Regions from separate parts of the Homo sapiens genome. Here all the other regions are linked to region 2. Evidence: fine-mapped expression QTL. A gene starts in region 2. Each other region holds a variant in brackets. All regions are shown on one strand. Distances are between the middles of the regions.

Region 1 (10,735 bases), 120 kb after region 2:
TCAAACATTGAGGGCCCCCACAAGAGTCACAGCAGCCCTCCCCCTGGCTCCTTCTGAGAAAGGCAGTGGCAGCTGGTGGCTGTGGGCTCTGTGGCCCACCCTTCCCTATGGACCTGTTGACTCTAGAGTCTTCTTGGAGATCCGGGCACAGCAGGTCTGCAGGGCGCATTTCCAGGCAGGGTACCGAAGGCTCCTCCCACAGGGCTCCCCGACTCCACCACCCTCCTCACAACGGTAGCATGAAGGACAAGGACGGCACCTCCCTGCCTCCAAGGCCTAGGCGACCTTTCTGTGACTCACCTGAAATGCCATCTCCCCTGTCCACCAATGGCGAGCCCACCCCATGCCGAGTGCCACCTCCTCCTGGAGGGCTTCCCTGAACACCCCTGCCAGGCAGAGCCGTCCACCACGATCCTTGCTGCTGTCAGGCCCCAAGGGCTTCTGAGGCTGGTGGCTGGGTGATTGGGTGTGGCTAACCACACACGCTTCCCAGGGACTGGAAGCTCCTGGAGGGGTGGAGTGGAGTGAGGAGGGGCCCCACCTCCACCCTGCCAGGCCTTTTCAATACCCAGGGGTGTGAGACCTGGTCACGCGCTGGTGCTCGGCACAGGCTGAGCAGTGCTGGCACAGCTGCAAGGGGCCACCCTGTCTCCCTCCACATGGCTGACGGGTTGTCTGCCAGCTGGGCCACCGACAGGACGTGGGCAGGGATTCCCTGGGGAGGAGCCACCACGGCTTCCTCGTGGTTCAGGGCGCCTGTTTCGGCGGCTCCGATGGCCTGCATGTCCCTGTTGCCAGTATTTTTAACTTGGCCCAGCTTTTAATAAACCCTTCATGAGTGGAGAGCAGTAAACAATGATTTGAAGACTTGACTAATTAAAACACCACTCTGTGGTTGCAGAGGGAAGCCGGCTCCATCCCGAGGGAGGGCCCTTCCCCCGGGGGTCACTAGCAGGCTCCACGCTGCAAGCCAAGCGCAGCAACGCATCCAGACCTGGAAACGAGGGAATCCATGATGCAGCATGGAGGAGCTGCAGCAGGGACCCCACACGCACCTCCCCGGAGCCTGGCCCCATCCCAGACCCTGCCACCTCCTCCAGGAAGTCCCCCTCACAGATGTGCAGCACTGTGCTCCTTGTGGTGCCTGGGAGCAGGCCAGGGTCCTTTCCTGCCCACCCCCAGGGACAGCTGCTCAGCCTGGATCTCCACCTGTCCCTTGCTCCGTCCTCTCTCTCCTGCTTCCACATGCCCAGCTCCACTTTCTCTCTCTCCTGCTCCTGTACCGAGGGCACTGCGGCCATTCATCCGGGGCCCTGGGAGGGGTCAGCAGGCTCTCCCTCTGCATCTCCCTCCGTCTCCCCATCAGTGCTGTCTTTACTCCATGATCTTGGTCCCCCTTCGGAGCCCCAGCATGAACCTCTCCATCGGCTCCTCATCCGGGAGAAGGTCGTGAGAAAATCATGCCCCAGGCCTGCCTTCTGCCCTCACTTCTCCGCAACCCCCCAGGCTCCATCCAGCCCCTCCTGGACCTGCACTGTTCCTCCTGCCTCTGCCCTGGGAGGGTCCCTGGAGGCGGCTGGGTGCTCCCGAGGATGAGTGCTCCTCTCCTCAGCAGGAGTCTGTGGGGGAGGAGCTGCAGAGTATTCCACAGGGCAAGCAGTAGATGCTTAATAAATATCAGAGAGACTCCACACACACACACACACACACACACACACACACACAGGAGGGGAGGTGGGCAGACCTCCTTGGACAGGGTTGGGTTTTGCCAGAAACCAGAGGAGATGATTATCCTTTACATGTGACCTCAGAGATCCCCCAACCCTAAAAATACCTACTCCCTGTCCCACCGACCCCCATGCCAAGCCTCAGTCCAAGTCAGCGGTGGGAAACCCAGTACCCAGTCCTGCCCACGCCACCTGGCTGGTGCCTTTGATTGAAGGGGTGTCTTGAACTTCTCCCGACTGCGGTGAGCACATTTGTAAGATGGGGTTAAGGACTCTTGCCCTGAGAAGAACCCCCTCAGAGCTCTGGCATGGCCGTGGTGAGCTGGGGCTGGAAGGAGAGCCTGGGAGCAGAGCAGCGACACCTCGGTTATCACCATTTGTCCCAGTCGTGGTTATTACAAGAATTAAGAACGTTCCCGCTGGCCTTTAAGGTCATCAAGCCTCTCTCAAGGGTGGAGGTGCCTCCCTGCTGGGTGGCCCTGGGGACCCAGACCACCTACTTGGGGGTGGCCAGGCGATGAGTGGCCAGTTGGACCACCTGTGGCTATCCGGAGCCCCTCCCCCTCCACCCAATTGTCCTGAGGCCTGCACGGTTCTACCTGTGATAGGGAACACTGCCTCGAAGCAAGCCCTTGGCGGCATTCCCAGGTTCCACCTCTGCCTGCCTCCTCCCCAGCCCTCCTGGCTTGTCAAGACAGAAGCTGGCAGGAGGGGTTTGCAAACATGAATCATGGCATTTATTCCTATGGTCTCTGGCCCCGACTTTGTAAAAACACCTGCAGGTGACTCTTCCTCCAGAAAAGGGAGGCCGCTGGTTTTTTCTTCCCCCAGCTTTGCCGGGAAAGAGGCAACAGGGAGTGCTGGAGGGCGGACCGTGTCATCGAGACAGGCACATTTTTCGGGGTGTGTAGTTACCAACTAATTAGCAAGTCTGGAGACCACGACTGCGGAACAAGTGACACGAGGGCCCTGGAGGGCCCAGATGCTGTTGCCTACCGGCACATTGCCTCTGTGGCCCTGAGGCAGGGGACGAAGTCTGGGGACAGCCCACCGGGAACCCATGGGCCAGCGGGGAGCAGGCCTGTGGGACACCCAGATGCTCCGGCCCACTGCTGGGGACATCACTGCACCTCCCTCCCGCCCAGGCCTCGGTTTCCCCCTCTGGCTCTGGAGGTGATTATCACAAACCTAAAGGCGGCCTGGATCCTGGTGCCTGCTCCCCTCCCACAACCCAGTTCTAACACCTGGGTCACATATGCCCACTCCCTGTCTGCCCAAGCCAAGCGTCCTGCAGTGAGGACCTCCGTCCCCTCTCCATGTGCTCTCTCAGTCTCAGAGCCCTCCTGCCTCTGGGGCTGATCACTTCCCAATTTCCCACTCCCCTCTAGGCCTCGAGGCCTCAGTTCCTATTGTTCCCTCTACCCAAGGAGCTTCCTCAGCCCTGTCACTTGTCAAAACACAAGCCTGTCCTCCAGGGCCGTCTGGGTACCGAGAGGTCCAGGCCACCTCTTTCTCCTCAGGAAGGCAGAGGCCCCTTGGCACGCTCACAGGAAGAGCGGCAGCTCAAGGCCGGAACACGATTACCAAACCCGAGACTTCTCCCTGGGGCCCCAGCCGGCCTGGGACCTTGAGGACAGATTTCAGGCAGGCATGCCTTCCTTCAGTACTGCCCCTGGGGAGCGAGCAGGCTTCTTGCTGCTGGAGGAAGCTGGGATTTAGTGAAAGGAGGCTAATGTGGAAGAGCAGACGGACAGATGGCCTGTGGGCCCAGGGCACACTGCCTACGCCTCTCTGAGCTTCGGAGTGGTGCCTGTAGCATGGGAATTATATAGGACCAGCTTCCTAGGTCCACCAGGCCCTAGTAAGTGCCCGGTGGAAGCTAGCAGGCACAGGAGGAAGGACGGGACAGCACATCTGACCAAAAGCCCCAGGTCCAAGCACAGCTGCCCAGAGCCGGACAGAGCCCAGGCAGGTCCCAGGGGGCCTCTCCTTCCAGCCGAGCTGCAGGAGTGCTAAGGCGAACCAGGCAGGGCCTGAGAGCCCTTGGAAGGCTTCCCAGTGGAGGTGACCTTGGGGATGGGCCTTGAAGGGTACACATGAGTTTGCCAAATGCAGGGGAGGGGGAGGCCTTCCCGGCAGTAGGACAAGCTTGAGCCAGGGAAGGTTAGGGCGCCAGTGTGCCTGGCTATTCTGGGAGACGAGTCCAAGGCCCGGCAGAGTGAGGGGAGCAGCTGTCCCTGAGGAGGCCGAAGGTCGGCAGGGCTGCCCAGCTGGGGTCCTGAATGCCAGGCCGCTGGGCAATGTCTTTGGGGAGCCTCAGACAGGCTCTGAGAAGACGAAAGACAAGGTCAGAGCTTTAAAAAGCTGCAGTGCGGTCACTCTGGCGGCCACGACAGAAGCAAGAACACAAGACAGTGACGACCACACAGAGGTCATGGCTAGGCCAAGTGGAGCAGCAAGGAAGGCAGAAATGGGGGGCTGGGGACGTGGAGGAGGGGCAGGAGGAAGAAAGCCATGAGGAGAAGCCAGGAGGAGAAGCTCCCCAAAGCCTCACTCCCCTAGGCTCTTGTATAAAACAGGGAAAATTACGCTTGGAATATCTCCTACATCGTGAGGTTAACAAAAAGGAGTTGCAGAACAGTGTGTGTAAAACGAACTCATGTATGTAAAGTGAAAAAGAATATATACAAGATCCCCTTTCCTATTGATCTGTTTGCACATGCCTAGACGCTTCCGGGGATCACAGGAGAAACTGACTGGCGCTGGGCTTTGGGAGTGGCTGGGGAACCCCAACGGGAGGACTACCTGCTTTGCACTTCAAAAGAGAGGGCCATCTATTTTATAATTGAAACCACTTTTAACATAAAAAGAAACTGGCGGGGGCGCAGCGGTTCACGCATGTAATCCCAGCACTTTGGGAGGCCGAGGCAGGTGGATCCCCTGAGGTCAGGAGTTTGAGACCAGCCTGGCCAACATGAGGAAACCCCGTCTCTACTAAAAACCCAAAAATTATCCACACATGGTGGCCGGCACCTGTAATCCCAGCTACTTGGGATATTGAGGCAGGAGAATCGCTTGAACCCGGGAGGCGGAGGTTGCAGTGAGTTAAGATTGCACCACTGCACTCCAACCTGGGTGAAAGAGAGAGACTCCATCTCAAAAATAAATAAATTAATTAATTAAAATAAAATAAAATAAATTATAAAACGAACCGAAACAGGCAAACGGTTAGAGAAGGCCAGCATTTGTCTCAGGGGAAAGCACAGCCAGAGGGGATCGGGGAGGCTTCGCGGGGCTGGAAGGTTCCAGAAGGCTTGACTTT[C/G]CCCACCTGGTGGTCTACCCGGCCCGCAGTCCCAGCCCCATGTCCCCCCCACCCAGGGGCAGGACTCCCGCCCTGCGCGGCCCCAGCTCCCGCTCTCCGTGGCGAGCCCGCCGCGCCCCCTGCCGGCGCGCGTTGGGGAGGAGGGGCGGGACGCAGAGGCTGCGGCTGGGCTCCCGGGCAGGCGCCGGGCTTTCTCCCTGGGTTGTGTATGTTTCTTAAAAGAATGATACGTGTGGCAAAAAAAAGATAAGAGGGGAGCCATTATTAATGAGAACAGGTGAGGGGAGGATATTCATGATCGTTTCGAGCCTAATGAAGCCTGCCGAAGGTTCCCTCCGGAATGATGGATTCCGCGGGGCCGGGGCGCTCCCATCACTCTTGTCCTCGGAGCCGACTGTTCTCCCGGCTGCCTCCGCACAGCCCGCTCCGGAGGACAGGAGCGAGGCTGATAACAAATTTTGGGAACATAGAATTTCACACCTCATCGCACAGGCATTAAGACGACAATACAGCGGATGACTTCCTCCCGCTGGCCCGCCCCCTCAGCAAGGAAGGCCAGGCCAGGGGAGGCCTGGGGGCCGGCGGGGCCCCAGGGAGGAGGGTTGGGCTGGGGGGGCGCCCAGGGCTCGCAGAGCCCCTCAATTGTCCTCAGGCCCGGCAAGTGGAGGCGGGAGCGGTGACAGGGACAACGGGGATCTCTGTCCCACCCATCACTGGGATCGCAATTGCGTGGAGAGGGAAGGCCCCAGAGCCCACGGAGCCGCTCTCCCCGTCCAGGCCCCCGTGAGGCCCACTGCAGCCTAGCTCCTGCTCCTGACGTCGGTTCCCAGCAAGTTCAGCCAGGTGGCTGGCTGTTCTCACCCCTCCCGGGAGCTGCACAGACAGCTGCGTTAGACAGAACGCAGGCCACAGGGCCGGGCAGTGAAACTTCCCATCACCCGAGGCCGAGCCGGCCAAACGGCTCCCCTGGCGTCATAACGGCCAAGGCCGGGCCACCCTGGCTGGAGGGCGCACGGGAGGGGCGCAACGTGACGTTTGGGAGTACAGAGCCAGGGAGAGGGGGCCAAGTCAGGGGCCGCCGCACAGTATAGGACGTGAGGAAGGAGGAGCCCGCTGCCCCGCTCCCCTACCTCAGCGTCGGGTCTACCCTGCCCACCTTCACCATGTCACAGCAAGATGCGCCCCCTTTGGCCCAGCCCCCAGGTGACACACGGCCCGGAACTTTGACCCGCCTTGTGCAAATGTGAGCCTATTACCAGCACTGCCCTTGTTCCCAACATTTGGGGCACAGAGGGGTCCTTTTCTGTCCCCAGAGCCATCTTGAGTAGAATGAGGAGAAGAGGCGTTTCCAGGCCCTCCTGGCCCAGTTGCTCGCTGGCCCTCAGCTGCCAGGAAGGCGGACATTTGAGAAGGAGCAGGGAGGGTGTGGGGCAGGAGAGGGGTGGTGTCCCAGCCAAGGGCAGCAGGAGCCACCCAGAGGCCTTGGCCGGTAACTGACGCCAGCCCTCACCTGGAGGGCCAGGTGAGGCCAACTCTGCCCCTCCCACCTCCTGTCTATGCCCAGCAGGTCCATGGCCGTCAGAGGAAGCCCAGGGTGGTATCGCATTCGCTTCCCCTGGCTGCCCATCTGAACCCAAAGCCCCTTGAGGGCGGTGAGCAACGCCTGCTGGCTAAGGGGTGCCCCTGAGCAGGGGGTGAAGACACCCCGCCAAGCTGCTGGTCTTTCAAGTGGGATTTTAAGGCCGGGTAGAATTTTTAAAAATGAAAGGTAAATGGAGTTGTTTTTCTTTCTGAAAACAATAGATGTTATTTAAAGAAAATGTAGGGGAGGCTGAAAAATCCAAATAATAAATCATCCATCGTTCCTCTGCATAGGAAACATTGACATGGAGGTATTTCCTTCCAGTCTTTTTTCTGTTCATTTCCCTTCAGTTTTGTTTTACATGCCAGAGATCATGCTGTCTCTGTGATCTTGTTTCTTGTTGGTTCTTATACAGGAGACATTCCCTATGTTTATCTAAATTCAGAAGAGACAAAGTATAAATGGCTGCATAACAGTTCGTGGAGTGGTTGGTACCACAGCTGGCTGCTAATCTTTTACTTGGGATATTTAGGATTTAAAATTTTACTTTTGATTAGGAGAAGCAGGTCTGTCATGGTGTCATTGTTGTCTAACGATTTTCCCTTATTTCAGGTTAATCGCTTTTCAACAGTTTTTTTTTGAGACGGCGTCTCGCTGTGTCGCCCATGCTAGAGTGCAGCGGCACAATCTCGGCTCACTGCAAGCTCCGCCTCCCGGGTTCATACCATCCTCCTGCCTCAGCCTCCTGAGTAGCTAGGACTACAGGCGCCCACCACCACGCCTGGCTAATTTTTTGTATTTTTAGTAGAGACTGGGTTTCACTGTGTTAGCCAGGATGGTCTCGATCTCCTGACCTTGTGATCCGCCCGCCTCGGCCTCCCAAAGTGCTGGGACTACAGGCGTGAGCCACTGCACCTGGCCCTTCAACAGTTTTTTAAAAGTAGAATCTCTGTTTCTAAGATAATAGAAATCTTACAACAGAAAAAAGGGATTTTGTTTGTTAAACATAAGTAATATGTATTTATTTTAGAAAACTTAGAGACAAGTATAAAGAGAAAAACACAAGTTGCCAATAAACTCATGAATATGGGTATATTTATGATCCAGATGTGAGTGTATAAGAGTCAGTGTCTGTGTGTGTGTGTCAGTGAGTGTGTATGAGGGTGTGTGTCAGTGTGTCAGTGTGTCAGTGTGTGTATGAGAGTGTGCGTGTGTCAGTGACTGTGTGTATGAGTGTGAGTGTATGTCATTGTGCGAGTGTGTACATGAGGGTGTGAGTGTGTGTGTCAGTGACTGTGTCTGAGGTTATGTGTGACAGTGACTGACTGTATGAGGGTGTGTGTCATTGTGTGTGTGAGGGTGTGAATGTGTGTGTCAGTGTGTGAGGGTGTGAGAGTGTAGGTGTGTCAGTGTGTGTGTCAGTGAGTGTGTGAGGGTGTGAGAGTGTAGGTGTGTCGGTGTGTGTGTCAGTGAGTGTGTGAGGGTGTGAGAGTGCGTGTGTGTGAGGGTGTGAGTGTGTGTCAGTGTGTGAGGGTGTGAGAGAGTGTGTGTCCGTGTGTGTATCAGTGTGTGCACACACGCATCTATGGAGACAGGAAACTGTCTCAAGCTTCATTCGCCAACATTTCTTAAGTGCTCCCCGGGACCCAGCCGCCCTCTGTGTGCCCGAAAGTCGACCCTGCCCTCTTTTACTTCTGGCCCGGAAGCAGCTCTCCTTCCCCAAGCCTGACAGTGCCTCGTGGTTTGGAGGTGGGGGGACACGCCGACTGCAGCCGTGAGAGCTGCTGTTGCCCCCAAAGCTGGAGGTCACCTGGGCCCCGGTCCCTACTGACACTGTGTCTCCACACCCTGCTCCCCCAAGCCCCATCACCTTCACAGGCCCAGGAGGAGAGCATCCCCCTCAGTGCATCCGTGGCTCAGGCCAGAAACCCTGGAGGCCTCCGGAGCACTCTCCTTCTCCCGCAGGACTTGCTGATTTTATCTTCAAAACGTGTTTGGAATCCCACCACTTTGTCTCTCCATGCCACCACCCTCGAGGCCCACAGCTGCTCTAGCCTGGATCGTGGCGACCATCTCGCAGCTGGCCGCCCTGCTTCTCCTGTGCAGGGCAAGCCTTTCCAAGCCAGGCCACCTCACGCCTCACCATGGGGCCTTTGCCATGGAGCCTCCCTCTTCCTTATCTTGCCCCCGAGCCCCTGGCTGTTGCCTGACGCCCCTTCTCTCGTCGCTCACTCTCTGGTGCCTCCCTAGTAGCCACACTGGCCCCCTTGCTGCAGCCCCGAGCCCGGTGCACAGCCTGCTCAGTCCTCTAGCCCCCTTGCTGCTGGCCCGAGCCCGGTGCACAGCCTGCTCAGTCCTCTGGCCCCCTTGCTGCAGCCCCGAGCCCGGTGTACAGCCTGCTCAGTCCTCTGGCCCCCTTGCTGCAGCCCCGAGCCCAGTGCACAGCCTGCTCAGTCCTCTGGCCCCCTTGCTGCAGCCCCGAGCCCGGTGCACAGCCTGCTCAGTCCTCTGGCCCCCTTGCTGCAGCCCCGAGCCCGGTGCACAGCCTGCTCAGTCCTCTCCAGTGGCCCGGGGCTCACTCCTTCACCTCCTTCAGGTCTTGGTCAAATTCACCTTCTCAGCGAGGTCTTCTACTGCCCTCCCCTCCCGCCAGCCCATCCCTGTATCCCTATCCCCATTCCCGCTTTATTTTTCTTCAAGCACTTGTAGCTTATAAAATGATTTAGGGATTTATTTATTAATAGCACTTGACCGCTAATAAAGCCTCTGCACTAGTCGATGCCCGTAACCCTCTATTAGCGGGCATAGCAGTGGGTTGTCCTCACTTCCCAGGAAGGAGGGAGGGATCCGGCTCGGACTGGGTGCCCGCCATGTGCCAGGTCCTCTCTTGGTCCCCATTTTGTTTGGTTTGGCTTTGTTTTAAAACAGTCTCGCTCTGTCACCTAGGCTGGAGTGCAGTGGCATGACGAAGGCTCACTGCAGCCTCAACTTCCTGGGCTTGAGTGACCCCCAAGCCTCAGGCTCTGGAGGAGCTGGGACCACAGGCAAGCACCACCACGCCCACTAAGGTTTTCGTTTTTTGTAGAGATGGGGTCTCTCTTTGTTGTCCAAGCTGGTCCATTTTGTATAAGAAGAAAGAGATTCTGTCACTGAGTCTGTTTCCCAGAGACTCTGTAGTAGCTGGGGGCATTCCAGAAGGCCAGGGTAGCCACACCCCAATCAGCCCTGCGAATGCTATTTCAAAACCTCCTCCTTCCCTACCCTGGTATAGGTGCCAGGAACTGTGTGGGCATCTGAGAGCCAGGGACTGGCAGGAAACTGTTATGTACCTCCAGCTCCCTGAGGTCCCCACCTCGCCTTTTTAAACAGACTCGACCCAACCGTGTGGCTTCACCCTGTGGTGAGGAAAGCCCTGCCACGGACATTGGCCCGGACCCCTGAAATCCATCCAGACCAAGTACCTCCATCACCACACCCAGCCAGCCCTCTGCATCTCCAGTCCACTTTGGAATTTTTAGCTCCTCAGCCGGGTCAGTGCTCACGTGGGTTGGATTCACTCACTTGGACCAAGACTGGCTCTGCCTCTAGTTGGCACCACCTGCCCTCCACCTGTCTCACATCTGGGCTCCAGGGTGGACATGTGCTCGCCACTCCTGCTCCCATTGTCCCTTGGACCAGCTCAGGTGGCTCAATACCCACCAGATGCCATCAGAAGAGGGTGACTGGAGGGGGCACCCACATGGGACAGGAGCCGCAATGTCAGGGCCCCCACTGGGATTCACAGTGCCCACTCCACATCCTGTCCCTTCTCTCTGGTGAGGTCTGGCTCTGGAAAACTGTTGAGGGTCCTACTTCTCCTCTTGGTGAGCCACACAGAATCCTTTCCGCCCTTTGTCAACCCAGCACCAGACTCACACCCTCGATGTTGACAGTGGCTGCCACCTCCACCAGCAGCAGTGAACATTTATTGCACACCTGAACCTTGCGCCAGGCACTGTGCTGTGGACTGTACCTGTATTACCATATTTTATCTCACAACCACTCCACCTTATAGACTCGTCCCCATTTGTCCAAAGGCAAAAGGCTCAGAGGGGTTAAGGACTT
Region 2 (10,735 bases):
CTCACACTTTCCACAGCAATTTACAAAGCACTTTCATAGTAGTTACAGCATTTGGTCTTCAAAAGCGCCCTGTGGGGTAGATACACGAGGGGGTGTGTGTGTGTGTGTGTGTGTGTGTGTGTGTGTGTGTGTTTTAATCTCCATTTAGACCATGAAAGAAACTGAAACTTAGAGTAGTTAAGCGACTTGTTTAAGGTCACACTGTTATTAAAAGGTGAAGCCAGCACATGGTACCAGCACTGGGGCCACCCAGACCCCCAAGACCACCCCAGGCAGCTGGGATTTCAAACAGACTGTCCCATTGTCAAACATTTGGTTTGAAATAAAAGGACTCTTAGTATAACTCTGGGCCAGAGGGGAAGAAGGGGTGAGGGCAGCTAGCGTGGCACCCTGGGTCCAACTCCAACCCCTTCTGTTGCCAGCAATGTGACCAAATACTTACACCTCCCAGCAAGTTTCTGTTTCTTTAATGTAAATGTAAGCCCTACCCCATGGGACAGAGAGTTCAGTCCTCACGGGTCCTCTCTCCCTTTCAGCTTCTTTAAATTACAAAAATCAACACTACCAAATGCATCCTCACCTGGAAATGAGGCTGCCTCGTTTACATACACATATTACATAAAAATCACATGTTCATATCACATAGAAAGTGCTCTGGAAATGGCCACATGCATAATTCGTGTTCTTACTCAAGTCAGCCCGTCGATGGTCTCTGCAAAGCCCCTACCTGATGCAAGGAGAGCCCGTGGACAAGGGCTGCCTGGAGTGCTGTTGGAGAATAAATAAGACAAGTAAGACAAGCAAGAGGGGTGGGAAGGGACTGACCTGTCAAACCTTTTCAACAAACATTTGCTGATCACCTCCTCTATGCCAGATCCTGCCTGAGGCCTCTTTTATCTCATTTAATTCTCACAACAACCCTAGGAGGTTGCTCTCATCGACCCCATTCCCCCAGAAAAGGATAGGAAGATCTTCAGAGAGGTCGGGCGTGCCTTTGGTGATTCAGTAGCATGCTCATTCCAGAAGCCCACCCAGGGCCTTGGAGTTGCCAGCAGGATGCTGGCCAAGCCCTTGGCCCAGGTCCCCCTCCTGAGAATTTCCCAAAGGGATCCTTCCATTCAGGACATCATAAGGGTGATGACAGAGTCAGTCGACAAAGACTGACACCCCCTTGGGGAGGGAAACACTCCAGTTTGCTAGCAGGTGAACACAAGCAAAGACTTATAGGAAAGTACTCATAGAGTCAAAGTATGAGCATAGCAAAGGTCAGGGCTTAATGCCCAATGCCCCCTCACTAGGGCATTGGTTTAAGTCTTTAGGTAAGAGGGACAGCTGGCTGGTCAGTTCCGGTCCTCTTCATCCTTTGCCATCCTGGTCCTGGGGGTCAGTGAGTGGCTGCTTTGTATGTTGGTGGGATCCAGGAAACCGTGCTCCTAGTGCCCTCTGCAATTGATCAAAGGTTAGAGAACCTGCTTAAAAGCCCAAGCCTAGATCATAATTACAGTTTAAGTTCATTAATTACAATTAAAGCTGATTAGTTAAAATTTAAAATTGTCTTTTAATTGCTAGTGGGTCTGGGGGTGGTGCAAGGATGGTGGTGGGGTTGGGAGATTCTGCCCGCCACGTTGGTTATGAAATGATAGCAGGAGGGTTGAAGTACCGTGAGGTGTAGATGGGCAGCAGGCCCCTTGGCAGCAGCTCAGCATGGAGAGGAGGTGGTCCTTGAAGACAAGGAGGTGGACGGATGATGTCATCCCTGAGGAGAGACCCTATGGCATGGGAGGGGGGCAGGTTAGAAACCATCTTCGTGACCTCTAACGGCCAGCACCGGAACAGCAGAGAGCAAAAGGGGGCAGGCAGAGGGAAAGGCAGGGAGGAGTGGCAAAGGGGAGGACTGAGGAAGGCAGTAGGGAGGGGCTGGGAGGGAAGAGGGAGGGGTATGGAGGGAGGAAGGAGGGGGGCAGGGAGAGGGGAGGAGAGAAGGGGAGGGGAAAAGAGAGATGAGGAAAATGAGGGGGGAAGAGGGAGGAGGGAAGAGGAAAGAGGGAGGAGGGAGAAGAAAAATAGGAGGGGGAGGAGGGACGAGGAAATGAGAAAGGGTGGAGGGAGAGGAGAAATGGGAGGTGGAGGAGAGGAGTGGGAGGGGGTAAGGATGATTTGACTGACAGGTCACAAGTGTTAGCTGTGTGCGTGTGCGCAACTCAAAACCCAAGGTAGCGGGGCTGGCACACACCGCTAGGGGGCGCGCGGCCCGCACCCGTAACCCAGGAGTGCAGCAGCCACCTGCGGCGCCCCGGCCCGCGCCCGGCGGGCCTGGATGGACAGGGGGTGCCCAACAGGTCTCAGGCTAGGAAGGGCTCCACAGCCCACCCCAGGCCACCGCGCCAGGTCGCTACGCCCCCTGGACGCCTCTCCAGCCACCACCAGCCAGAGCCCACCTGTGGCTGCGGCGCAGCGCCTCCCGCCCGCACCAGGCGCCTCCTGCGCCCCCAGCCACCGGGCCCCAGCCCCAGAGGAAGGTGGGCCACCCAGCGGACCTGCGCCAGGCCCCTCTGGAGCGCCGCTCCGCCTGCTACAGGGAAAAGCAGAAATCCCGACTCCCACCTTCGTCAATCCAATTAAACACACGTTCACTAAAGTCAGAAAGACCCAGTCCTCCAGGCACCGCTGTCACGCATGTGGGTGGTCTCGGAACGAGAGACAGAACCTGTGACATCGCTGGAAAGTAACGCAAAGGGGGCCACCACGCCGCTCCCCGCCTTCGCCCCCAGGCATCAACATCACGCCTCCAAAGTCGTGCCTCCCTCCTTCGCCACAACAACAATTTCTAGCCCCCGCACGATGGCCCCTCACTGACCTTGTCACAGCCTCTCTCTCCATCCTGCTCAAATGAGCCACACCTTCCTAAGACCCCCGAAACCAAAAACCACTGGAAATCAACTAACGTGCCTCTGTGCGCCTCCACAACACCCGAAGCCACGGCGCAAAGGCCGACCCCGGCCTCTGCGGCCACTCCGCAGTGAATCCGGGGGGTCTCAAAACTGTTCCCTCTTGGGTAAACGAATCCAGGATCCTCCAGTAGATCCCGCGCCCGACCCCCTCCATCAGGAGAACAAAGGCCACCTCCCCTCCCCACCCCGCCCCCCAAAATTCCGCAGTGCCGCCAGCGCCCTCTCGCGGCCAGCCAGGAAACCTTCCAGAAACCTGCCACGTAGCCACCCGCCTGCGCCCCCACCAGGCCCGCCGGCCCAGGGTGGGAGGGGGCGGCCTGGGGGGGCTTGACTCTGACAAAGGAAATGGCAAAAGGCGATTTGACCAAAAGTCCAAGACTGCAACATGTCAGGATTTTCGAGCGACCACCACGCAACGCTCTGAAGACCCCCGCGGCACCCCATCCCCAGCTCCCAGCGTCCAGACCCCAGCAACACACCCCCTTTTCTGCATTTCTCTCCTCCCTCTTCCCAGACCCAAGGACACGGCCTTCTCTCCTCCCCAACCCACCCCCTGCATCTATTCTCCCAGTGCCCCCAATCCCACGACCCCCCTTCGGCAAGGACTGATCCTAGGGGGCTACTGGCAGGTTTGCACTTGGGCGCCATCTCTCTCCACTGTGAAAGTGGCTGATCAGGGCAGAACCAGATGATATCGGGTAGAAATTTTACTCCACATTTTGCCTGGGGTCCACACTGCACTAAACCTGTGTATTTGGATTCGGAAAACCTCGCGAAGAGGAACCTCCACTCCTCCCGCCCACGATCCACCAAAAACCTGGCCAACAGCTGGCGAGGCAAATATGCCCGGGAGACCCTTCTATTCGGGTGCTTCCCCCCCTAATTCATGGGGCACGCAGAAGGCATCGCCGCCATATCTCCCACTATTAACGCGATTCTAGAGGCGGCTTCTAATACAGGAAATCCGGGGTTCGCCCCCCAGTGACTGCCGTATACCCGAATCCAAGAGGAGTTCCATCTGATTCCTCCCGCTCCTCTGAACTGAAGTCCCTACCACCCAGCCCACCCTTAAGGACTGGACCCTCCAGAGAGGAGCCCTGACTTCCCCCCAGGGAAATGTGCCTCAAGATTTTCTTTCTGACAAATTTTGTTGCGGACGCTCGGGGACCAGGCGAAGTGGCCGCCTCCAGCAGCAGGACCCAGGATCAGGCAGGCTCTCGGCATGTCCAGGAGGACAGAGCCCATCCCAGAAGCGGATGCCGTCTTCCTTTTGCACATCCTTTGCGGCAAGGATGGCCAACCACTCACCGGGTGAGGGATCCTCTCGTGGGCGCCCCAGCTCTCCTGAGGAGCCGCCGCCAAGGCCAGCGAGCCAAGGCGCGCTCCCTCTCTGCTCTCCGCCGTCTGCGCTAGGGGCTGGCTGGGTGGGGTTTATATGGAGGCGCAGAAGGGGTGGTCTCTGACGTCAGCGCATTCTGCTGCAATGCGCTCATTTCTCTAAAAGTGATTGGCCGGAAAAATGAGCCCCCCAGATTCTATGACAAATTGCTCTAGCCGCACCCAGATTGCAGCAAAGAAGGGAGGAAAAAATTCTGCCGCAGTGCCCCTGGCCGCCATGACCAACACCCTGTGGTCGCGGGTGCTTTTTCCCTGCGTGAGCCCGGCTCGCCAGGCAGGGTGAATTCAGGCACAATGTGTGGGGGGAATCGCCCCGATGGCTGGCCGTCCTCAGGCGGCCGATGGCCAAGGTGGGGCTGTCGGGGCGCAGATCCCACACCTGGCGGTTTCGGAACATCCATCGGAGGATGCGGGCTTAGCGAAAGAAAATCATGCTTTCTCTTATTGTTCAGGAAAATAAAATGCCCGGGCGACATAACTGGTTCCCAGATGTAAGCCAGAGGCTGTCACCCCCTCCCAGCCCACCCGTGCGTTTCTGACTGGTTCTCTTTGACATGGGAGACAGAGCTCCGCGTCTCCGAGTCAGAAAACCCTGGCTGTGGAGTCCCGGGCTCTGCCGCTTACAACTCATGTTCGCGGAACCCGCTATGCCCCTTCCTCTTCCACTGGGTCCGCTTCCTCCACCTTAACCAGGGGTACCCCCCACCACACACACCAGGGTTGTAATAAGAATCCAGACAGGAGCCGTGCCCTCTAAGGAAAGTACTTTTAGAGGGCGGACTGTGTCCCATGTGGAGATGCCTGAGCTACCCCTCAAAGTTGGGGTGATCCCCACACACATGCCCTTTGAAAGAGCCCCAGCGCCCCGAAAAACAGGCAGCGACACATGTTGCGCCGAGCCCTGCCGCGGCCTCGGCTCCGGAGCTGGCACATGGGAGTTAATCCCTAACAGGTGGGAGCCCTCGGCAGCTCTGCCCGGCTCTGAGTGGCAGAGCGTGCAGGGCCGTCAATCAAATGTCCTCTCGCAAAGGTCAAAATGCTGTTGAAAGGGACCGAGGATCTATCTTAGGGTGACAGGTGGGTGGCAGCCAGGAGGACAAGGATGGAGTGCTCGGTGACAGAAAGCAGGTGAGGATGAGCAAGGGGCCCCAAAGAGGACAGCAGAGAGGCCCCGCCGAGGGCATCAAGTCAGAATCGCTCCCCCGCACTTCTTTGGGGGGTTTAAGCGGCGTCAGAGGGAGCCCCCCATGCCCAACGATCCCACAAGGTGACTGTAAAGCAGACGGGAGATTCCAGGGCTGAAAAGAAGGGAGAAAGGCTATTTCTACGTCCACAGCTAATGACTAGGGAGGTGAACATTGACCGTCAGGTCACTAGAGGCGCCGAGCCTTGGGACGGCGTGTGGGGGGCTCGTTTTTTCATAAACAGGCGCACTGTTGGGGAGATAGAGACGTGGGACGTTGGGGTCCTCATGGGGCGCTGCTTTAATATGTCAGGTAACACGAAGGAGAAAGAAAACACCCCCTTTACAGCCTGTGGAGCTTGCCAGGAGCCCCAGGGACTAGAGCCCCGGAAGCAGGCCTTGCACAGCAGAAACGCCCGCACCAGCCACAGACGTCAAGAACGCTTCAAAAAATCATGGCTCCGAGCACCCGCGTCAACAGGAGAACGTTTATTAGCCACAGTATTAATAGCTAGGAAACAGCCAGAGCTGGCCGGGGCCAATCAGCAACCAGGAGCCCCTGTCGTCAGGCCCCCACGGCCAATCAGACGCCGGCAGGCCCGGTTGCTAGCCTCTCGGGGGCAGAGGCGAGGGGCACGCATTGACAAGGGGCTCGCATTCACCCGCCGCGCGTGGGAACTGTGGTGGCCGCCAGAGAGCATCCGCAGCCACGCACCCGGGGGCCCGGGAGGCTGTCGTAGACACAGTGCCAGCCCGCGTCAGCCCTGCAGCCCCACAAGGGCATGAGTTGACGTTCCGGTGGGAGCCCCAGGCCTCAGGTGGGATGCTCCTGGAGCCCCTAGAAGGAGAAACTTCCAGACACCTAATGTCCAGTCTCTCCTGTCAGGGCCTGGCGCCCCTGCGGGAAGTTGAGCCTCCCAGTGAGAAGCCAGCCTCTGCCCTATTCTGGGCCCCCTGGCTCTTGAGCCTGCTCCTTCGAGGTTCACAGTAAACCCCACTCTCCTATTTCAGGGCCTTACTGACAGCCCAAGGAAAAAGACCGTGGAAATTACGGGTTTCCTACAAAGCACCACGGGTTTGAATCCCGGCTCTGCTCCCTCCGCGCTGGGAGGCTGAGGTCCAGGCCCTCCCTCTCTGTGGGCCCCTACTTCCTCATCTGGAAAAAGGAAAGACTTGGACAAGATGGTCCCTAAGGAGCCTTCCAGTCCTACTTTGCTTGATTTGAATGTATACATCAGGCGAGTCAAATGTCTTCCAGAACATTCTGCATGACAGTAATTAGTATCAGGTGTATCCTGCAGTCCATGTGGTTACTTCATCATGCTGCTTTTCTTTCCATTGTATTTTATTTTAAACAGAACTCCATGGCAACATGTTTACCCTTCTGGCTTCCTAAAAGAAAGAAAGAAAATGATGAGGGGGGGGAGCAGGAATGCGAGGCAAAGAGAGAAAGAAAAGACTGCTGCAAACTAATCTCCACTGAACATGGTTTAACCACAATTTAAAAAAAAAATCCATATGTTTAAATGTTTTTGTTGGCTTTTCTGGAGCTCAGAACCTAACTTTTTAAATATTTATTGGTCCAAAGCAATGGAAGAAATTCTTGAAGGAGCCAAACCTATAGTAATATTTGGATCTGAACTATTTCTCAATCTGAGCAATGCTATACATGCCTTCCTCCCTCAAAAAGGCCATTCAAGGGCTCAGATTTGTATCTATAGGGGAAAACAGACAAGGAAATCCAGGTTTGAGAAATGGAGCACTTTCTCTCTGTGCATGCTGAAACCCAACTCTCCTGAAATCCTGGAGGCGAGCCAGTGTCCCAGACGCATGGCTTAGCTTGCTGCCTTTTTTTTTTTTTTCTCAGATCTAACTCAAAGCACACATTTTTCTTCTTTTTTTAATTCATACTTGAGAACCCTCAAAAGCCATGTGAGCAGCCTCCTATCCACATGTACATACTTATGGGCAAGGGGACAAACCTCCTAAGAGCCAGCCAGGAAATGAAGACAAGGTCCTCCTATACCCATCTCCCAGGCATGGGCAAATATACTCTCTTCTCAAAAAGCATACTCTGAACTTTTACAAACAGCAAACCCCAAGTGCCTACCCCTCTAAGCCGACGTCCCAGTTTTCCCCGTACCCTTGAAATTTAGCATGCACCAGAGATCTCTTGAGTTCCTCTTCTGCACTCCCCCCAGGGGGCTGCCGGGATAGGGAGGCTGCTTTGACTTCTTCCTATATAAGCTGCCACTGCAGTCCCAATCCCCAGCTCTAGTGCCAGCCTCTGGCCCTTCAAGCCTCTGAACATCACTGAACCCCCTCCCATTCTGCCATAGACCTCAGCTCAAGTCAGAGAAGCAGTTGAGCGCATGGGCGGTCTTCCATGGGGCTGAGTTTTTCCTTCTCGTGGGACAAGGGGAAGCCTGTCATTGTCAAATACAATGTCTGCCTCCCATAAGAGGTGAGGCTTGACATCAAGTAGTCAAGGATTTGGAGGAAATGATCAAACACACCAGGCCTATCTTCTGGGATCTTGAAATTGACAGCAGCTCTTCTAGAAAACACACCGACCCCAGCTCCCAGTGCCGGGAACACTCTGCTCCCCTTAAAACCAGAGTTCTGGGCACAGCCCCAACCTTGCATGGAAGAGTTTGCCAAATTGTAGATACTAAAAGACAAATAAAGTTCAACGCCTTTCACAGACGGCCAAGGATGAAGTTTAATTCCAGGTAGACTGCTGGGTTTCAAGGCAGCGCATCTGTATATTTGAGTTAGCTAGACTTCCAGCCATTCCCCGTTGACTAACAGTAACCCAAGAGTAAATGTTCAACCACAGAGTTGCCCTTTTCCTCATCAGCCTCTGGAGGAGCGTGGTATGTGGACAGGCAGGGGACATTGCTCTTTGGGACTACTTTTTATAATAACTAGTGCCAATGAAAAAGAGCTGGAGGGTAATGCCCCCAAATGGTACCATTAGTTGTGCTGGATGGATAGATTCTGAGTGAATTTTCTTCTTCCTTTCTACTTTTATGAATTCCTTTACTGGCATGTATTCCTCTTATAGTGTGTGTGTGTTTGTGTGTTTTAATGCTGCAGTCCAAAGCCAGGCACAGTGGCACATGCCTATAGTCGTAGCTACTCAGAAGGCTGAAGCGGGGAGGATCACTTGAGCCTAGGAGTTCAAGGCCAGCCTGGGTGACATAATAAGACCCCAACTGTTAAAAAAAAAAATTCGTTTTAATGTAACGGTACAAGAAAAGTGACCATTTTAGCCTCTTCTTTATTGACCTCAATTTAAAAATCTTTTCCTGTTAAGTAAATAAAAATCAAGAGACCCAGGATTCATGTCCTGCATAGCATAAGTCCCCATTCCTGGACAGAGGCATTCATGCATGAGTGATAGCTGTGGGGTGGGCACAGAGGTGGGTGCCAGTGGCAGTCACCTAGCTGCGCCCAATCTTTGGAAGGACTCTCCTGAACCTGCCACAGAGGTGAACAAATTCCAAGCTGGTAAAAGCAAAAAAAGTGCACTTCAATGATTTCATTCCTACTGGGGGGACCTAGAGAAATCCATTTCCGAGAAGACCAAGCAGGCCAAGAACGGGGTCTTGGTGAAGCAGACCACTGCCATGGGTTGGATTTTAGAAGTCACATCCTGACACTAGGAAAAGACAGCCACATTGCCCACCCCACCCCCACCCGGGGCCCCCTGGCTTTGGGTGTGGGCCAGCCCCAGATTCAAGCAAGGGGTTTTCTTGGCCCCACTCCATGGAAATATTTCCTTCGGTGGAGCAAAGAACTGCTCCATTCAACTGCCTGCGGCTAGGGAGGGGGTGGCTTTTGCTGTGTTGACAGAGAACTGCAGAGGCCTGGGGAGGGGCCCCAGAGGAGAAACTGTGTTCCAGGTAGAACAGGACTGGAAAGTTTGCTCTTTTTTTCTTTTTTTTTAACTAAAAGATTGCTGACAGTTGAAAAACTCCCACCCCACCCAAGAGGCTCCTAGAGGAGGCATTTGTACTAGGTTTCAACAAGGACTAGAAACTTCTTAAGTCTTAATGTCAAAGGGAAGGGGGCCGAGGCTGGGCACACTTTCAATTTAAACATTGAGGGTCTGGATGGTTCCAGAGCACACAGTTGGCCTCCCTGAGCCAAGCCTGGTGATACCTCTGTCTCAGAGCTAACCCAGAAGCCACCAGCTCCTGGGGGAGCCAAGGGTGCGTAGGAGACGCACTGTGATTAGGGGCCCGTGCACATAGAGGCAGCGGTCAGAGGTTCCAGAGGGCACACAATCTTCCCTCGTTGAGCTTAAGTTTGCTGATGTCCATGTCGCAGCCCACGCCCAGAGGAGGGTACCAGCAAAGGTAGGAATCTCCTTGAACTTTCTTCAAAAAGCCCAAATCCATGTGACTCTTGCTTCGTAGAGCTGCTCAGAAGCTCATGAGGGCTCGGGGGAAAGTGACAATCCCTGGGAGATAGGATGATGAGTTCCACCTACCACGGCAGTCTACCACCACTGCCACCGCTGCCTGCCACCGCTGCCTACCACCACTGCCTACCACCACTGCTGCCACCACTGCCACTGCTGCCACCACTGCCACTGCTGCCTACCACCACTGCCTGCCACCGCTGCCTACCACTGCTGCCTGGCACCGCTGCCTACCACCACTGCCTACCACTGCTGCCTTCCACCGCTGCCTGGCACCACTGCCTACCACCGCTGCCCTCCACTGCTGCCTGCCACCGCTGCCTACCACTGCCTGCCACCACTGCCACCGCTGCCTATCACCGCTGCCTGCCACCACTGCTGCCACCGCTGCCTGCCACCGCTGCCTGCCACTGCTGCCCTCCACTGCTGCCACCACTGCTGCCTACCACTGCCTGCCACCAATGCCACCGCTGCCTATCACCGCTGCCTGCCACCACTGCCTACCGCATCAGTCTACTACCGCTGCCTGCCACCGCTGCCTGCCACCGCTGCCTGCCACCGCTGTCTGACGCTGAAAGGAGATGAGAATCAAACAGAGGGCAGCACATGGCAGTGCAGGGTGAGTGCCACTCCATGCAGTGGCCTGTGCTGCCCAGAGTCTACCGAGCCACACGTTGTGCACCTGGCGGGATGGCTGACCACCCCATAAACACAATGTCACAAATGCTGATTGCAGCCTTTCTTTCAAACCATTGAGTGCAGCTTGCAGGGTGA
Region 3 (10,735 bases), 140 kb after region 2:
GCCAAGCCTGGGAGTCTCAGTTTTCCCGCAATCCCCCAACCACTTCCCCAGGTGAGCAAACCAAAGGCGTAAACCGAGGCAGAGCCACCTTCCTGGCAGAAGGAAAGGTCTAGAACAAGGAATAAAATCTCCATCACGCAGTTTTTAAGATTCACTGAACCTTCTTGCAGCAAAAGCAGCTTACTTTCAAATTAGTCAGCCAGAGTGTGAGTCATTCCTTTGCAAACTCTTGTGCAGAGAATGCTAATGTGGGCTGCCCTGTGGATGGGTCCCTGCAGAGGCGCTCACCAGGGACCCTCGCCTAGGGCCAGAAGCACCCCCTCCCTCCAGGGACACTGCCCTCACCCCGCAAACACAGGGGCTCAGGCCTTGGGTCCCCCTCGCCTGCTCTGCCTACCCGCCGTCCAGCCTCTGCCTGCCTCCAGCAACAGGCCAATTAATCCCCCCAACCTGGAGCAGCCGGGGCCACAGCAGCCCACGCTGGCCCACGCTGACAGGAGAGAAGCGACCCAAGCTGAGGCCTTGCTGCAGACGCCCAAGGCCACAGGTCTGCTTTTCACCAGGAAGTGGAGGGCTGGTGAAGGTCGGTGTTACGGTAAGGGGAGTGGACGGGGGCACCCGGGGGGCTGTACCTCCTCCCCCACCCAAGTCCTGCAGAGGCAACTGGAAGCCCATACATGCCCACAGGCACTCATCCACAACCATTTGCTAACCTGCACTGCCCTGACTGAAGCTCCGGCCACACTCCAATTAGACTGGGCTGGGGGTGGGGGGCCAGGAAGGGAGAGTTAGCCCCAAAGTGGAGGAGAAGTTCCGGGAGGGAGGTAGTGAGGGAGGGCTTCCTGGAGGAGAGGAGGAGTAAGCGGAGCTTCAGGAGGAGGGAGGTAGCCAGGAAGCAGAGGGTGAGGTGGGGACGATGGGGCCATCCCAGCACAGGGAACAGGCATGCCAAGGCCGGAGTGAGGGGCCACATGCACGGCTGCCACATGACTGGAGGGAGGCAGGCCTGGTGGAGAGGCTGGAATGGGGGACCAAGGACTGTATCCCGAGGCTGGCAGGCCCCAGCTGTGAGCAGGGCAGTGGCATGGTCAGGGTGGAAGTCCAGACAGCTTGCCTTGGTTCAGAGTGAACGTGAGATGAGGACCGGAGCTTGGTCGCCGAGGGACCTGGGGCACAGTAGGGCCCCTGTGGGTAGGATGTGACCTCAACTGGGATCGTGGCTGAGGGATGGAGAGATGATGACGTTGGCTGAGGGATGGAGAGATGATGACGGTGGCTGAGGGATGGAGAGATGATGACGGTGGCTGAGGGGTGGAGAGATGATGACGGTGGCTGAGGGATGGAGAGATGATGACGGTGGCTGAGGGATGGAGAGATGATGACGGTGGCTGAGGACATGCTGGGGGCCAAGTCGATGGTGCTGTGTGAACCAGAGAAAGAGGGGCACATCTCCAGGGGTCCTGCTGGCCCCAGGCCTGGAGAGGGTCCCATGGAGCCAGGGATGTGGCACCTGGGAAGGTCCCAGAGCTAGCCACAGAGGCAGCCCGGGAGCTGACCATGTCGAGGCCACAGGAAGGCCACTGGAAACACTGTCCACCTGCCTGGCGCTGGCCTGAAAGAGAGAGAGCCACTTCATTCCCTGCATTTGACAACGGACAGATCCTAACTGACCACGGGCCCCCGCCTCGCCCTCCCTGCACGCAATCCTCAAACACGCATCTGCACCTGCCGCCTCCTGGCCTCTCCACCCACCCACTCTGCATGGGCTCCCATCATGGGGGCAACATGAGTCCTCTGAGACCATGCTAGCAGCGAGCCGAGGGCACCACAGGAATCCCAGGCCTGGTCTGGGCCAGTAAGGTTTCTGCCATTGGCACCAAGGCAGGCCTTTACCTGGACTCTCTGAAGATACCGGGAGAGCCCCGTAAAACAGAGATGGTCTCTCCTGCCTCGCTCCCTTGCGTCCTAGGCAGCCTAACCAGGAGCGGCCCACAGAGAGGTCATTTCTCCCCTGTGGCAAATCTGTCTCTCCAGGAATTAAAAACATCCCAAATGTCAGATCCAGCAGGAAGGCCCCAGGATGGAGCATTTGTTTGAGATCCCCTTTGCTCTGGGGCTTCAGAACAATGACCGCTCCTAGGCAACCAGGGAGAGAGGAAGAGGCCTGGGATCCCGGGACCAGGAAGAGGGGCTCCCTCTGGAGGCTCTCCCTCCTCCCCTGTGCAAGGAGTTTGTAGCCCTGGGGAGGGTGGTGGAGAGAGAGTGGGATGGTGGGCGCGGTCAGATGGGAGTGAGCCCTGGGCAGCCCCCAGGCCCCTTCAGCTGAGTGGCTCTTTCCTGCTGGGAGGATTCCCCTCTTCCCCTCCCCCTCCTGCCTCTCCAGCCCCCAACCCACTCCTGGTGAAGCTGCCTGGGACCCTGAAGGGACTGTGGCAGCAGAGGGGGCTGAGGTGGAGGGGGCTGAGGTGGAGAGGCTGAGGTGGAGAGGAGGCTGAGGTGGAGGGGGCTGAGGTGGAGGGGGCTGCGGTGGAGAGGGGGCTGCGGTGGAGAGGGGGCTGTGGTGGAGGGGGCTGAGGTGGAGGGGGCTGAGGTGGAGGGGGCTGAGGTGGAGGGGGGGCTGCGGTGGAGAGGGGGCTGTGGTGGAGAGGGGGCTGAGGTGGAGGAGGCTGAGGTGGAGGGGGCTGAGGTGGAGGGGCTGAGGTGGAGGGGGCTGAGGTGGAGGGGCTGAGGTGGAGGGGGCTGAGGTGGAGGGGGCTGAGGTGGAGAGGGGGCTGAGGTGGAGGGGGCTGAGGTGGAGGGGGCTGTGGTGGAGGGGGCTGAGGTGGAGGGGGCTGAGGTGGAGAGGGGGCTGTGGTGGAGAGGGGGCTGAGGTGGAGGGGGCTGAGGTGGAGGGGCTGAGGTGGAGGGGGCTGAGGTGGAGGGGCTGAGGTGGAGGGGGCTGAGGTGGAGAGGGGGCTGAGGTGGAGGGGGCTGAGGTGGAGAGGGGTCTGTGGTGGAGGGGGCTGAGGTGGAGGGGGCTGCGGTGGAGGGGGCTGCGGTGGAGGGGCTGAGGTGGAGGGGGCTGCGGTGGAGGGGGCTGCGGTGGAGGGGCTGAGGTGGAGGGGGCTGAGGTGGAGAGGGGGCTGAGGTGGAGGGGGCTGAGGTGGAGGGGGCTGCGGTGGAGGGGGCTGAGGTGGAGAGGGGGCTGAGGTGGAGGGGGCTGCGGTGGAGGGGGCTGCGGTGGAGGGGGCTGAGGTGGAGAGGAGGCTGAGGTGGAGGGGGCTGAGGTGGAGGGGGCTGAGGTGGAGGGGGCTGAGGTGGAGGGGGCTGAGGTGGAGGGGGCTGAGGTGGAGAGGGGGCTGAGGTGGAGGGGGCTGCGGTGGAGGGGGCTGCGGTGGAGGGGGCTGAGGTGGAGAGGAGGCTGAGGTGGAGGGGGCTGAGGTGGAGGGGGCTGAGGTGGAGGGGGCTGAGGTGGAGGGGGCTGTGGTGGAGGGGGCTGAGGTGGAGGGGGCTGAGGTGGAGAGGGGGCTGTGGTGGAGAGGGGGCTGAGGTGGAGGGGGCTGCGGTGGAGGGGGCTGCGGTGGAGGGGACTGAGGTGGAGGGGGCTGAGGTGGAGGGGGCTGTGGTGGAGGGGGCTGTGGTGGAGGGGGCTGCGGTGGAGGGGGCTGAGGTGGAGGGGGCTGAGGTGGAGGGGTAGCAGGGTTTGGTTCCCTCGAGGTCCTGGGAGGGCGCAAAAAGTAACAGAGGACACCTGGCCGAGAAGGAAATGTGAGCCAACCCCGCAAGTCTGAGCACAGATTGGGTCCAGCTTTCTTGTTGTTGTTGTTGTTCTATCTTTAAAGAAAGGATGAGAGCCTTAAGCATTAAAGCCCATTCTGATAAAAGTAGGGAAGCACCCGTCTGACCCCACGCCCCACCCAGCCGCCCCCAGTTCTGTTGCGGCAGCCTGAGGCACGGCCGGATTTGATCTCTGCCCGCTCCCCTGTCTTGTTTCATTAGCTGACTCTGTGTTTGAGGGTTTTATTGTTTTTGAGTTTGTTTGTTGTTTTTTTTTCAAACAGGGTCTCTCTCTGCCACACAGGCTGGAGTGCAGTGGTGCAATCATAGCTCACTGAAACCTTGAATTCCTGGGCTCAATTGATCCTCCCACCTCAGCCTCCAGAGTAGCTGGGACTACAGGTCCACCATGCCCAGCTAATTTTTTTTTTTTTTTTTTTTTTTTTTTGCTAGTGATGGTCTCTTACTATGTTGCCCAGACTGACCTTGAGCTCCCAGGCTCAAGCAATCCTGACTCGGCCTCCCAAAGTTCTGGGATTCCAGGTGTGAGCCACCACGCCCAGCCTGTTGGAGGTTTTTTAAGCATGCACAAATACACACACACACAGAGGTCTCACCCCTGAAGCTTCCACTTCCAAGTGATGAAACTGACAGATTTTAGCTACCGTGAGAGTAACCAGGTAAAATTCCCTAGAGGAAACTTCTGGGGACAGGGTCAACATGAGTGGCATTTTCACCAGGGGGCTTCGGCGCCATACTGGTCTGATTTTCCCTTCTCTATGGAGGGGTTCCTGTTGCCCCGTCTCTGGCATCTATTAC[G/C]GGTTTAGCTGTCCTGGTGTTACCCAGGGCAGAGGCCACCTCCGATTTTCAGGGTCAAACTCACACCGCGTGGAACACCTTCAGGAAAATGATTTTTCCCTTCTTTGGAGGTGGTTTTCTTAGAAGCATATCTCCAGGAGGAGGAGGACTGCTTAACAAGGGGCATCTGGCCTTTGATAACTCTTCCTACGTGCTTGCCTATTCATTTCCAAAGAGGCTATATCATTTTCAAGTCCTCTAATGCATTGGTGACAATTTCATCACAGCACTGGGGTGTCATTACGTGCAAAATGATCTGATATCTCAGTACCGGTACTTCCCCAGAAAACAGAGAGCCGAGGTCTGTTTTGTTTCTTCCCTTCATCTCTGGAACCACCTTTTCACTGTTATTTTTATTCAATTATGCTACATAAACGTGCTTATTTCTATGATTCCTGCCCTAACACATGGCACTTTCATGCGGTTCAACCCAAAACTAAAGATGTAAGTGGCAGGCTACAACAGGCTATTGAGAGAGCAAAGACCAAATGGCCATTTCTCCTTCCCTCTGGCAGGAAATCCTGAGATGACTTTTCAACATGACATTCAATTTTAGGAAATTAATTCCATCCTCTGACCTGCTTGTTCTTCTAAGGCCGGCGTCAGCCAAACAGCAAGACAGTCAGGTCTCTGAAGCGTCTGATATTGCAGGGGCCAAAGGGGCTGCACGACTCTGGTGCATCCCATAATTGTCTGCTTTTGTCCTGCTGGGCGGACGTCAGGGAGCCTTACCTGGCTTTCTAACTTGGAGCATGTCCCCAGAACCTTTATCTTCTGCAGCCTCTTCCCTAGCTCAGACATGGCCGGCCCCTTCCCTGGAGCTCTGGGCTGGAGGCCAGGAGCCCTGGGCTTTCTTCCTTTAAGAGAGGGCTCTGACCAACAAGCGTGAGGGTGAGGAAGGAAGGAAGAGAAGAAGAGTGACATGCAGACTTCTGATGAGATCTTTCGTAATAGCTTGACAGCAAAGGACGGTTATTGTGAACCATACTGATTTAATGAACTCTTAATGAAATACAAATCTTGATTTTATTTTTTTCTTGAGATGGAGTTTCACTCTTGTTGCCCAGGTTGGAGTGCAATGGCACGATCTTGGCTCACTGCAACCTCCACCTCCCGGGTTCAAGCGATTCTTCTGCCTCAGCCTCCTGAGTAGCTGGGATTACAGGCATGTACCACCACGCCCGGCTAATTTTGTATTTTTAGCAGGGGTGGGGTTTCACCATGTTGGTCAGGCTGGTCTCGAACTCCCGACCTCAGGTGATCCGCCCGCCTCGGCCTCCCAAAGTGCTGGGATTACAGGCGTGAACCACCGCACCCAGCCTAAATCTTGATTTTTTAATTGTAGTAAAAGAATCTTTACCATCTTCACCATTTTTAAGTGTACATTTCAGTGGTATTAAGTACATTTCCACTGGTGTGCAATCATCACCACTGTCTGTCTCCAGAACAACTTTCGTCCTGCAAAACTGAAACCCCAAAAGATTAAACACTAACTCCCTATTCCCTGTCCCCCAGCCCTGGCAGCCTCCATCCTACTTTCTGTCTCTATGATTTTGACTCCTTCACATAAAGGGAATCATATTTAACTTTTTGTGACAGGCTTATTTCACCCAACATAATGTCCTCAAGTTCACCCATGTTGTAGCCTGGGCCAGCATTTCCTTCCTTTTCAGGGCTGAATAGTATTCCATCGTGTGGACTGACCACATTTTGTTTCTCCATCCACCCTTCAGTGGCCACTCAGCTGTGTCCACCTTCTGGCTACTGTGTGTGATGCTGCTATGATCATGTGTGCACAGATAGGAAGCATATCTTCAGAGTGTGTGTGGAGTTGGGAGGGTCCAGCTTCTCTTCAACCCTTGGGAGAGGCTTCCAGAGGAGAAACGGAGCTGCCATGGGCAATGTGGGCAGAGTTAGGAGGAGGTGGGCTCTGGCTCTCCCTGTTCCTTCCCTCTGGTCCTGGAAGCCTCTCTTTGAGGCCAGCTGAAGGAAGACCCTTGCAAAGGGAGAGACTGGCCTCTGTGTCCAGTTGGAAGACCCTGGCAGCGTCAACATGCTCCAGGTCCATATGGCCCCTCCTTCCCATAGTCAGGCAGCAGAAGACCCTTTCATCAGGATTCAGGGGGCGCGGGCCTCCAGGCTCACTTTCACGTAGCCACAGCCCCACTTACAGATGGAAAACCAAAGCCGTGGTCCTACTGGAGGCTGGCCCGCCCCTGCCAGCCCCTCTGTGGTTCCCAGCCCCTCCAGCACGTTGAGCAGAGACAGCTGCCAAGAGACTTGGGTAACAGATGATTCCTCAGACCTGGGCACTTTTCATGTGATTGAATGCACACTTACAGAAGGGCCAGCTCTGAGTCTGCCAAGGGGCAGGCCCATACTTCAACTCCCCAAGGCTCGTCCAGACTGAGTGCTAAGTCTCCATCAGAAGCTATGAGACTCTGGCCACCTACTTCGGGGACAGAAAAACCTGCCTGTGGGGACCTTTGGCGTCCAGTCCTCTCCACAACCCGGAGCACACGGCACGTTCCCATTGGCGCTTTCACAGTGCAGATGAGCAAGCCGAGGCCCAGACAGCTTGCACCATGATGAGCAGGGTATGGGGAATGAACTCAGCTCCGGGGGGCAGCAGCGTCCCCTCCACAACCACAGCTGCCTCCCCAGGAGTCCATCAAAGTCCTGCAGAGCCCCCGGAGCCCCCCACAGACAATCCCTGGCAGGGGACGGAGTGAACCTTCTCTCCTTGGAGTGCCCCTGTGAGCATCAGGGTTACGGGGCAGGAGGCAGATCCCCGCCCACCCTCCCCTCAGCTCAGCCTGTCCTCCCCATCTTCTCATAGCTGCTCACACCCAGTGCCACTGCCCCCCGCCAGCTTCTACCCCCACTCCCAAGGATGCCAAGGACCCAGGTTACCAGGCCGATGACACCCCTCCCGGCTCCTGTCGTGGCCACCCCAGGCAGCCGACTGGTCCCTCCTGCTGAAACACCTCTTCCTGTGGCTTTGGGACCCGAGTCCCCCTCCTCTTTGAAGACCCCTTCCCAGACTTTCTCCAAAGGCCTGGCTCTTGCCCTTGCCTCCTAAAGCTGCCACTCTGAGGGCCAGTCCTGGCTCCATGCCCTCCCCTCCTGCCATGCTACTGGTGGCCTCATCCTCCTACCACTGAAGACCCCATGTGCCCAAGGCTCTTACGTGCCCAAATCCCAGCTCATACCCAGAGGCCCACCCCAGAATCACAAACCCAACGTCCCTCTCTCCTGAAAGCATCAGCCTCCACGTGTGTGTCCCCCATCTCCCACCTTCTTGAAAATTCTGCCACAACCCACGCACTCCTTCAGCCCACTGCCCCACCCATGCCCCCTCGCTTCTGCTCCAGGCACTCTCCACATCAGCCCCTCCGGTCCCCAGCGGGCTGCTCAGGGACGTGTTTGCATCATGGACCCTTCTGCCTGGAGCCTGCTGTTTCCTGCAGCCGGGGTGCCCCCTTGCTACCCTGGCCCACGTTCGGACGAGAAGCCAGATGCGGACTCCGTGTTGCTCCCTCTCAGGTCCCAGTCAGAGCCTGTGATATCACTGTCCAATCACATGCCGTGTCCCCCGGGGGCCCTCTGGGATACAGAAGTGTCAGTTATCTCTGTGTCCCTAATGGTGGGACAGGAAGGGCATTCAGGCCCACGCAAAGGCCTGCGCTCAGCAGCAGGAGTGCAGAGACAGCTCACTGGCAGCAGGAGGGCGTGGGGCTGCTGGGGCACGGTAGCTGGGGCTGAGGGCCTCTTCCGGTCCCTCGAGGGAGGAGCATAGTCTTTATCCAGGGGGCCACAGGGGCATGGTCACGTCTGAAGCCTTAGGAAAGGTCTGAGTAGAGGCAGGAAGTGGCCTCTGGCCGAGATCGCCTTTGCCTGGCCTCAAGGCCATCCGCTTTCCCACAAGACTCTTGGCCATGGTTGTTCAGGCCACTGTGAGCTTTTTTATGAGGCTGGAGGTTTGTAAAACTTATTAGTTGGTGGAAACTTGCGGGCTGCCGGCCAGCCCTCTGTGGTGGTGGCAGAACCCTGCCCGCAGGACACCCACGTGGCCTGTGACAATGGGGGGAGGCGGAGGGAAGGGGACCCCAGTTCAGGGGTGGTCATCCTCGGCTTCCCACAGCCAGGCGTTCTCAGCCGGTACTGGAGGGAGGGGCTGTCGCCTCGCACCCACCGGTCCTCAGGACACTCGAACCAGGGTTGTGACCACTTGGGAGCCTCTGGGTTGGAGATCAGGCTGGTGGCAGTGCAGGAAGGGAGGACCATCCCCAAACAGCGTGGCCTTTACCACAAAGGAGCCACCCTGGGTTGTCTCCTGGACACGGGTTCAAATCCCTGGTCTGCAGCCACCTAGCCATGTGGCTTGGGACAACAGCAGTAGAATTCCTGGTAAACACCCACTGGTCCCAGGCTCTGAGCTGAGCTCTCACATGAACCAAGTCAGTTGTCAACAGCCTGGAAGGGGACCACCATTATCATCTCCTCTCTAAGTCACATTCTCCTCTGCAAGAGAAGAAGAGTGTGGCGCCCACTTTCTCATGTCACAAGAGAGACACTCGTCAGCACCTGGTGCACATTAGCCGCCTGTGGACACAAGCTCTTTCCTTTCCCACCACAAGGCCCTCCTGGAGCTGGCCGCCTCCTCTGCCTTGCTGGGGAGTTCCCTCAGCAGGAAGGAATGTGCAGGCCCAGCGATCTCTGGAAACACCCGGAGTCTGCAGAACGTGCTGGACGCGGTCAGCTGTGTGAGACCTTGGCCCCCAGGCCTCTGGATGCACTGGATTCCCTGGAACAGTTAGCAGGACACAGGGCAAAGGCCTTTCTCCTTCTGTCGGTAATCAAGACCATCTGAGGACCCACGGGGCGCTCACGTTCTACCTTCCCTGGCTTGGCTGAGGGTTGAGAGGGCCTCGGGAAGGGTGGAGGGAGGAGGGAGAATGGACATAGGCCCATCTTTCGGCCTAGATGGAGGAACCGTGTGCTGGCTGGGCAGGCTGCTGGCAGAGGTCAGGAGGGCTCTTCCCTGAGCCCTGCCATCCATGAACTGTGTAACTTTGATCCAGGCCTTGTCCCTCTGGGCCTCAGTTTCCCCAAGCTGGATGTGTCGTCCCCCTGCTTCATTCACAATTACCACCAGAAGGACCAACACCACCCTGCAAGACTCAATGGGGTGATGGATCAATCAGAAAAAAAAACAACAAAAAAAAACACAGATCGCCTAGGGCTTAATTAACAGGAGCATGGTATTCATAGCTGGGGAGGTGAGAGTCGGCTGCAGACTGTACCTAGGCACTAACACTCAGTTCTGGGAGAAAATGACAACTGATGCCTGTTCAGGAGAGGGCACTGCGGTGGGTCTTGCAAGGAACAGATAGGAGAAGCCCTGAGACTTGGTTTGGAGGAAAGAGGCCCAGAAGGTCATGACTGCCACCTCCAGATGCGCTGTGGCCCCGGAGCAGTACTAGAAAGCCCTTTCCTAGCTATGAGACCTCCTCCACAAAGGAATGCACGTTCAATGAGGTAGTGAGCTCTCTAGTCCCGGAGGTAAGCAAGTCTCTGGGTGGCATCTGGGACCTTGTGGATGCCCCAGCAGCCTGGCTGGGCTTACCCTGAGGGGCTAAAGGGAGTGGTTGGGCCCTTCGGCCCCGTGGTTCATGAAGCCTGTAGTGTTCCTCTTGGGGAAGGGGCCACTGATGTTTCCCAGCCATGGAAGTGCCTGGTAGACCTCACAGATGCTTTGATGGTCCAAACAGGTGCCTCTGAATGCCACATCTTTGGGCTCCAGGCTGAGAATGCAGGGGAGGGGACTTCTTGCCCCCTGTCCAGGCCTCAGATCCCTCCTGGCTTTCCTGCTCCAGCCCAGCAGCTCACCAGACCCAGCGTCACCAACATAGCGTGGCTCTTAAGACCTTGCCGGCCACCTCCCCACAGCATTCCTGCCTCCACCCTCCTCCAGATGCTGTGCTTTGCTGGCACAGGGCCCACTGTCCATGCTCCCTCTACCCACCCCCCTTCCCGAGGAGCCCGAGCTCTCCCAGCACCCTTCAAGCCACCCCTGGGTCCCTCGGCATGAGCCTTGCCCAGCCGCTGTTTCCTGGCC

Evidence for each region.
Region 1: its variant is fine-mapped to the expression of MEG3 in blood mononuclear cells (TOPMed, PIP 0.92).
Region 3: its variant is fine-mapped to the expression of MEG3 in whole blood (INTERVAL, PIP 0.90).

The regions. Positions count from the first base shown.
Region 1 is chr14:100,704,313-100,715,047 of GRCh38, reverse strand. LOC105370669 (a long non-coding RNA gene) reads right to left here and starts at 5,981. Exons shown (of 2, transcript XR_944211.1): 1 at 5,911-5,981; 2 at 5,297-5,494. RefSeq lists enhancers at 221-732, 733-1,244. The variant C/G (reference allele first, on the strand shown) is at 5,050.
Region 2 is chr14:100,819,742-100,830,476 of GRCh38, reverse strand. MEG3 (maternally expressed 3) reads right to left here and starts at 4,359. Exons shown (of 10, transcript NR_190993.1): 1 at 4,260-4,359; 2 at 1,661-1,769; 3 at 728-1,443. RefSeq lists an enhancer at 6,059-6,759.
Region 3 is chr14:100,678,516-100,689,250 of GRCh38, reverse strand. It overlaps LOC105370668 (a long non-coding RNA gene), which reads right to left and starts at 2,317. Exons shown (of 3, transcript XR_001750887.2): 1 at 1,894-2,317; 2 at 1,511-1,612; 3 at 1,335-1,420. RefSeq lists enhancers at 1-313, 8,134-8,727, 9,322-9,915. The variant G/C (reference allele first, on the strand shown) is at 4,576.